Homo sapiens: one gene and its partner. The protein of the gene in region 1 purifies or fractionates together with the protein of each later gene. This does not show direct contact. Each region holds a gene or a part of one and is shown on either strand. Other genes may lie near its edges. The genes, in order: DOK6 and NTF3.

Region 1 (3,828 bases):
TAATGCATCTAAATGGGAATCAAAGGCAGCATAACTTTGCAATAGCCTTTAAGAAACACAGACAGACAGTTACAAAGTAAGGTTTGGAATCATTGCCTAATAATATTTTCAGCCATAGGATATCCAGGAATGAAAAAAGTTAAGTATTTTTATTTTGCTTACCAAAGCAATGTCTTAAGTTCTGCGGAAGGCTGTAATGAATATCTGCAATTATCATATGCTAAATTTGACCATGACTACAATTTGTTTTGAGATACAAACTAAATGATTTTTCCAGTGCTTAAGTAGTTAGTGAGTCAGTCTGAGGGTGCATTAAATACTTCACATCAACAAAGGTAAAAATCAAATAAGATCTTGCCTAAGGAGAGCAAATAAGACATCCCTCGCTGGAATCGTATCTGTGATATCCACTTAGATTGTGTGAAGGAACAGACCATAAGCACAATTTGGGCAGAGACTCCCTTAACTTTTGCCCTTATTTTTCCATTGTACAATTTAACTACTTAATCCTCACCATAGACAATACATGCAATGAAAAGTCGTTGAGTGAATGAATGAATTAATGATTCAGAACACTTTAATGAACTCCTTTTCTCATACAAATTTTGAAATATGTCATGTTCTACAATGTTTATCCATATCACCTAGGGAGGATGTGGTCATGTTTCCTGCAGTCTGTAGATAAACAAATTAATATCGTATGGCCATAGACACTCACACCTCTTTTCACTTAACCTTCTCCATTCTTCGTCTCTTCACAGAGAGATTCAACGTGTATCTTATGCCTACACCAAACCTGGATATTTATGGTGAATGCACAATGCAGATCACTCATGAAAATATCTATCTCTGGGATATCCACAATGCCAAGGTCAAACTGGTGATGTGGCCTCTCAGCTCACTGAGGAGATACGGTCGGGACTCAACGTGGTTCACGTTTGAGTCAGGAAGGTAAGATCTAGTGCAGCAGCCAAGTGCAGGAGTTGTCTGTATAACAGAGTCTGTATAACAGAGTCCTGAAAGAGAGTGCTGTCCATCATTGCCCCCAGTGAGCACTGTTTTCATTCAGGGTAAAAGTTACCAAATACATAATTTCTTCAGATTCTTAATAACATGAATACAATTCTGTTAGTTTTTTGGCAGGCTAATTACCCCATTCAAAATAATTTCAGTTTCTTACACTACCATCAAACTCAAACTGGTTTTGTAATTATTTTAATAATGTAATATGTTTTGCAAGATTATTACAATACTATATTTTCGGTGTGCCTGTATGCAAAAGGACCTCCATAAAATTAAAGGCAGCATGTCCTTGCTTGCATTGTTTTTGTGAGTGTTTTTTAATAAGCAAACAATCTTTTTTTAAAGTTTTAAATAAATTTAAATATTGCTTTTAGGCAAATATACTGCTTTCTTGATCACAGCATATGGTTGGAATCCATAAGGGTCTGAAATGAATCCTTGATTCACAATCATTATTAATAAACACGGATTTAGACATAAACTACAACCAACCAAATCATTGTCTTTATGCTATGACCCCATTGTAGTATTGTCACACATCCAAGATAAGACTTAGGTTTGGGGATTTTATATGAGGAGATGTTTAATGCTTCCATCTTCACCCAGGGTACATGATTTATCACATTCTTAAAATGAATTCATGGCCTTATAAGGCAATTATAGTGAAGTTTTATTGCATTTGATATAATATTTTTAAGTTTATAACTTTCTTCTTAAAAACTGCTAAATATTTACTCAATGTCACATTCTAATAATATCTATCTAGCCAGCTAGGGTAGGTCCCATGTCTCTTAAAATTTTAAGGAGGGAAAAAACAAACAAAAAACCTGAGCTGGAGTAATTTTACCAGTCTGGGGCCCTTTTGCACTACAGTAATATTAAAGTCTCTACCACACTGATTTCTCTGAAAAGCATTAGATCCTGTGTTTACTTAGTAGTTATGAGCTTGTTCAACTATTTCTGTCTACCTAGATATTGAGAGTGCAATAGTGTAATCACATTCCGATAGCCATTGGGAAATACAAATTCTAATAAGAAAATGAATATTTTTAAGATATGTTTACTATTTTAAAAATTATGACTATGAAAATGAGTTGACATGTTTTAGAGATTCACTGACCTAAAATCTATGATGCACCTTATTTTTTTACTGGCTTTAAAAAGGTAGTATATTAATCCATTTTCACACGCTGATAAAGACATACCCAAGACTGGGCAATTCACCAAAGGAAGAGGTTTAATGGACTCACAGTCCCACGTGGCTAAGGAGGCCTCACAGTCATGGCAGAAGGAGAAAGACACATCTCACATGGCAGCAGACGAGAGAAGAGAATGAAGCCAAGTGAAAGGGGTTTCCCCTTATCAAAACATCAGATCTCGTGAGACTTATTAACTACCATCAGAACAGCATGGGAGGAACTGCCCCCATGATTCAGTTATCTCCCACTGGGTCACTCCAACAACACGTGGGAATTTTGGGAGCTACAATTCAAGATGAGATTTGGGTGGGGACAGAGTCAAACCATATCAGTTAGTTTTACATATATATACATATATATATATATATATGAATTGAATGTTGTTGTTAAGGTTTTGTCGGGGTTGGGGTTTTGTTTTCGTTTTTGCATCATTTACCAGCACTACCTCCAGGATCCCTTCCCTTGGATCCTTCTAGATATACCTATCTTCCTCTTTCTATGGAAAACAATTTAACTATTTTGTCTGTTACAACGTTTCAATAGACTTCCACTCAAAATTTTAAATAACAAGTCATTTTCTTTCATGAAGAATGGTTATTCAGAATTTTCACTCCATTTATACCTGTCCACATTAGTTTTTTAAGATCTTTCTATTTCATAGAGGAATTTGGTATCTATTTTTTTCCCTCTGTTTATTTCCTTGTCTTTGAGATTAGAGATCTGTCCTTTGGACACAGTTCATTTGTGTGTTTCTCCTTCTCTGAATTTTGGGTGTCATTTGCTCTTTAGTGACTGAGAAATTGTCCATAATTTTGTGCATCTGTTTTGTAAATTCCAGATGACTTCACTGTTGTTAAAATGAGCCAGTGGGGGAAGGTCTTGTCCATACTTGATCTAGAGAAATAAAAGTGGGACATTGTGTTCCCTGGGTCTGGACTGATGGGGTCACTGGTGATGAGACTGGGGACAATTTAGAGGGCAGATTGGCAGGTAAGGCATGGCCAGTCATGCTAGCAAACCAAAGCCAAAGGCCAACACTTTCTAGGTTTTATTAGCTCATTGCCCAAGGCATATCACTTGGTATAAATTTTAGCTATTTATTTATACTACTATATGCACTAATAGTAGTATTAGTACAAATAATACATATGAAAATAATACAATTGGATATGTCAAAATACTTTTTTCATTGACACACTTTTTCAAATGCATTGTTAAATTCTGCTGTAAAACTGACATGTAGACATGAACAGTAGGAATGGATATACATCGTTTATTCTGGAGAAGCATCCTTCAGTCACCCTTGTAATTATAATTATATGCCATAAGTCTCAAGGAGCACTCACCTAGTGTGGGGCAGAAGGAGAACAAGGACCAGGAAACTCTCCATGGTAATCATCCTCAGCGCAGCATGGCGCCCAGGAGATGTATTCATAGTCTCACATCAGCTCGGAGCAATTGCTCTTTTACCATAAGGATCATAACTTTGCATTTTAAAGGTAGAAACAACCAATTTGCCATGCAAGCATATTTTCTCAAGATAATCACAAAAAAATACCAGACCTTCAGAGGAAGTGATAAGATTCATGATTATGTACAATTTTAT
Region 2 (3,828 bases), on another chromosome or scaffold:
TTTTTTGTGGGTTTGTTCAGTCAGAGATTTGTTGGAAGATTTAAGGTTCTCCAACATTCAAGGCCAGAGATTTTGGAGGAAACAGTAGCTAACAAGAGCCCAGGCCAGGGTGACCTTCAGTAGCCTGAGGCAGCAGGTAGCTGCCTGACTTAGAAGTGAAGGACCAGGTTCAGTGACTGGGCTCTGTCACTAATTAGCTGCTACTGTGTGACCCTGGACATTCTCTGTAGGACATGACTTTGCCATCTGTAAATGAAGGGCTTGAATTAGAAGATCTCCCAGTCCCATTCCAGCCCTGTCACTGTAGGATTCCACAGTAGCCACATCCTCCTACCTAATCAGTGCTAATTACCTCACTTGGAGTGCACCCTGGCACGCCCTTAACGAGCTCCTGTTTTTATCTTTGGGGAATGGCTGAGTCAAAGGCAGAAAAGCGTGCAAAAAATTTGCCAGAGTGTTTCCTTTTGGCCAAGAATGCTCTAAACATTGGCTTAGCCTACACAGGGTGTGCAGAGCTGAAAGGGGTGGGATTTGGCTTTCTGGTAGGTCTGATGCTAATCATTCAGCTTCCACGTGAATGTCTTTCAGTGGCAATGTCTCTGACTAAGGTAAGCATCCATCTTTAAGATGATGGATGATGATGATGATGACAGTTAATATTAGAGTACTTACTGGGTGCCAGGCATTTTTACAGCTATTACATGGCATTATCTCAGTACTCAAAATAATCTCATTTACAGATGGGGGTACTGAGGTTATGTGAGGTTAAGGGGTATGCTGATGTTCTTGGCTTTCCAGCCTGAAGTCTGTGGCATCCCAAGCCCATCACCTGCTAGTCAGATTCTGTTTTTTATGTCTGTGATGTCATCCAGATGGGAGCTGGGTCCATCTTCTTCTGCAAAGTTGGTCACCCCATAGGGTAACCTGCTCCCTGCCCCCGGAAGCCTCCTTGTCATGTGCAAGACAAATGTTTAGGTTTTCTAGCCACCTGCTGGCAAGCATGTGTCAGATCTGTCTCAGCCTCCATTGGCCCTCTCCCTTTACTTCTTGTTCTGTTGACAAGGGAACCTGCCCTTACAGAATACGGATATTGATTTAAGCCACAATTGCCTCCTTGTAAACTCTATAAAATTGGAGCTGGACATCTGGTTTTGATCCACACGCCCACGAGAGGTGGTAGGTCCCAGCATTCTTGAGTCCTGGAATTGCACAGAATCAAAGTGAAAAAGAATATGAATGGAGAGCATGAGGTATCTTTAGAATTTGGAAGATGGCTTTCTTTGATAGGCTAGGGAACTCACACCATTTAGACTGGGGCCAAAGTTAAGGTAGGTTTCTTGCTGGGAGGTTGGGGGGCAGGGGTCACTGCTAAAGACTGAGGTCCCCAGGCTGTGTTTGATGCAGAGCAGAGCAGCTGTAGAGCCCTCCAGCTGAGGATTTGCCACTGCACACCATTCTCTGGGCAGTACCAGAAATAGAGAAGCCAAACAGGTTCTTGGGGTGGATGTTGCCCTGTTTGAAGATTGTGACTAAAGGCTCATTCCTTCTTCCTCCACTGATTTCCTCACCATCACTACCACATATACATCATCAAGACAGTTAAGGACAGGTGACTTTGTTCTGTTGCTTAAACATATTTGCATGTACAAATAAATGTTGAACACTAACCTAATGCCTATTAGACCATAGGTACTCAAAAATTATGTATTTACTTTGCTTAAAATAACCTTTCATGTGTAGGGTGATAATTTTTTTCTTCATATGGAGTATATAGCCTTTTAAAAACTGATAGCCAGGTTCTTGCAATTTACTTCCCCCTTCCCTCTGTTTCTAGATCTAAGACCCCAGCATTTAAAAATATCCTTCTCTGGCTCTAAGTGATCCCTCAGGGAGTTTGTTTCAAGTTCTCAATCTGAGATTAGTTTCATCCCACATCTAGAGGACCTGCTTCTAATGGTTCATAAGGTACTTCCACTGGGTTCAAGAGGAAGACACAGCTCTAGAAATCACCTGCTTTCCCAACAGGTGTGTCCCATGGTGGGGAAGAAGCCCAGTCCTCCTAACACCCACCTGGCTACCTTAAATAGCTTGCCACAGTCTCCCTGCAGAGAGCCCAGACTAGCTGTGTGACTTTAAGCAAATCACTTTCCCTCCGTGGGCCTCTTTTCCTGGAAAAGGGAGGAGTTGGACTCACTAGAGGGTCACAAGGACCCTACCAGTGTGACAGATCACATCTTCCATGACTCCGCTGCTCCCTCGGCCCCACACTGTGGCCCATGCCTGGGATTTTCAGGTAACCCTGCTGGCCTAGAGGACTTACATAGAGTGATTTGGAGGGGGTGGAGGAGGAAATTAAGTTATGTGATGCCAGATAAGTCATTGAACATACGGATGAGTGCATGTTTATGAAGCACTGAAGAAACAAGCTTGCCAGATTCGTGGCGGATCTTGGATTGGAAGTTGGGAGTATGCGAGAGGTTTATGTGGGATTAAAGTTGTCTGTGGGTAGCTGAATTCAATAAGCTAAATCAGAGAGATCCCAAACTCTGCAGAGAGATCAGACCCCGCCTCTAACTCCAACAGAGGCTAATTACAATTTTGGGAAGTCCTCGAACCACACTAGGTCTCACTTCCTCATCTATTAAGAGCTACTGACTTTGATTATCTCTAAGGTCTTTCTTGACTTATCATTAATTAAATTGTGAGAATTGGGAGCTAGTAGAAAAATCTGGACAAATGCGTGGATGGAGAAGGGGATACCTCAAATGGCCTAAATATAGAGGGAAATGTTCTGTACAAGTGATACGTTTATTCTTGAATCGGAGATAGCATTGGAGGATATATTCTGTACAAATATTGTGCTTCAAATGCTTACCCCTCCATCATCATCAATGATATTAAAATCATTGCTTAACCTGGGATATTTGCTTAACCTGGGAAGCCTCCCTGCATTTCCCCAGAGAGCCTAAGGCTCCCTTCCCAGCCTCCTGATGCCACTTAGCAGCCTGTGTTTAATTTGCATTCCTAGAATGTGACTTCACAGAGAAAGGGATCTGTTGTTTTCATTTTTGTGTCCCCCACCTTGAATAGCGACAGCCACAGGAATGTGTTGAGTGAATGAATGCGTGACCAGCCATTGTGAGCTCAGAATGTGCAGCAGCGATTTGACAGTGCCAGGAACTTGGCTCAGAGAGGCAGTGCACCTTGCCAGGGCTTCAAAACAGTGTTACCTTTATCCCCCTTTTGGCCTGTCCCAAGGCTAAGGTCATGAATGCTCAGCGCTTGGTGGCCAGAAAAGGCTGTTCTTACTCCCTTTTAGAGACCTTTCTTCCCCACATCTTAGCCTGCTTAGTTCTCCTGCAAATTGGGGCTCTTGGTCACAGGGAATCGGGTGTCATTGCATACGCATTAGGATAACTCCTCGTTAGACACTCGGAAAGCAACTCAAAACACACGTGTACAGATTATTCATTAAGCAGTCTGTTGGTGGTCACGTGCTAAATGTTGGGGAAGATGCAGAGATGAATGTAGTGCTGCTGGCCTTGGGGTCTGGAAACTGGTGAAGGAGGCAGTCAGGTTACAATCATAGTGCTCCAGGGAGAACAAGGGAAGCAAGGAAGATGGAATACAGGGTTCCCACTTCAGGTGTTGTTTTTTAGTACAAACCATGATTGAGAATCCTCTTGGTTCAGGAGCAAGCTGGAGGGTCCAGGAATGGTCTCCGCTTCCACATGACAGTGGTTTTCTTGTCCCTGAATTCCCAGGGCTAGGGTGATGGATGCTCAGAGACCATTGTGATGGGAGCCCTTGGTCCTTGTGGGGAGAGTC

The links.
Region 2: the proteins of DOK6 (region 1) and NTF3 purify together in Homo sapiens (co-immunoprecipitation; one study listed by IntAct). This does not show direct contact.

What each region holds. Positions count from the first base shown.
Region 1 is NC_000018.10:69,697,643-69,701,470, forward strand, and holds part of DOK6 (docking protein 6), read left to right. Parts: intron 1-761; coding exon 762-951; intron 952-3,828. UniProt on the Homo sapiens protein: DOK proteins are enzymatically inert adaptor or scaffolding proteins. They provide a docking platform for the assembly of multimolecular signaling complexes. DOK6 promotes Ret-mediated neurite growth. May have a role in brain development and/or maintenance.
Region 2 is NC_000012.12:5,438,563-5,442,390, forward strand, and holds part of NTF3 (neurotrophin-3 isoform 1 preproprotein), read left to right. Parts: intron 1-3,828. UniProt on the Homo sapiens protein: Seems to promote the survival of visceral and proprioceptive sensory neurons.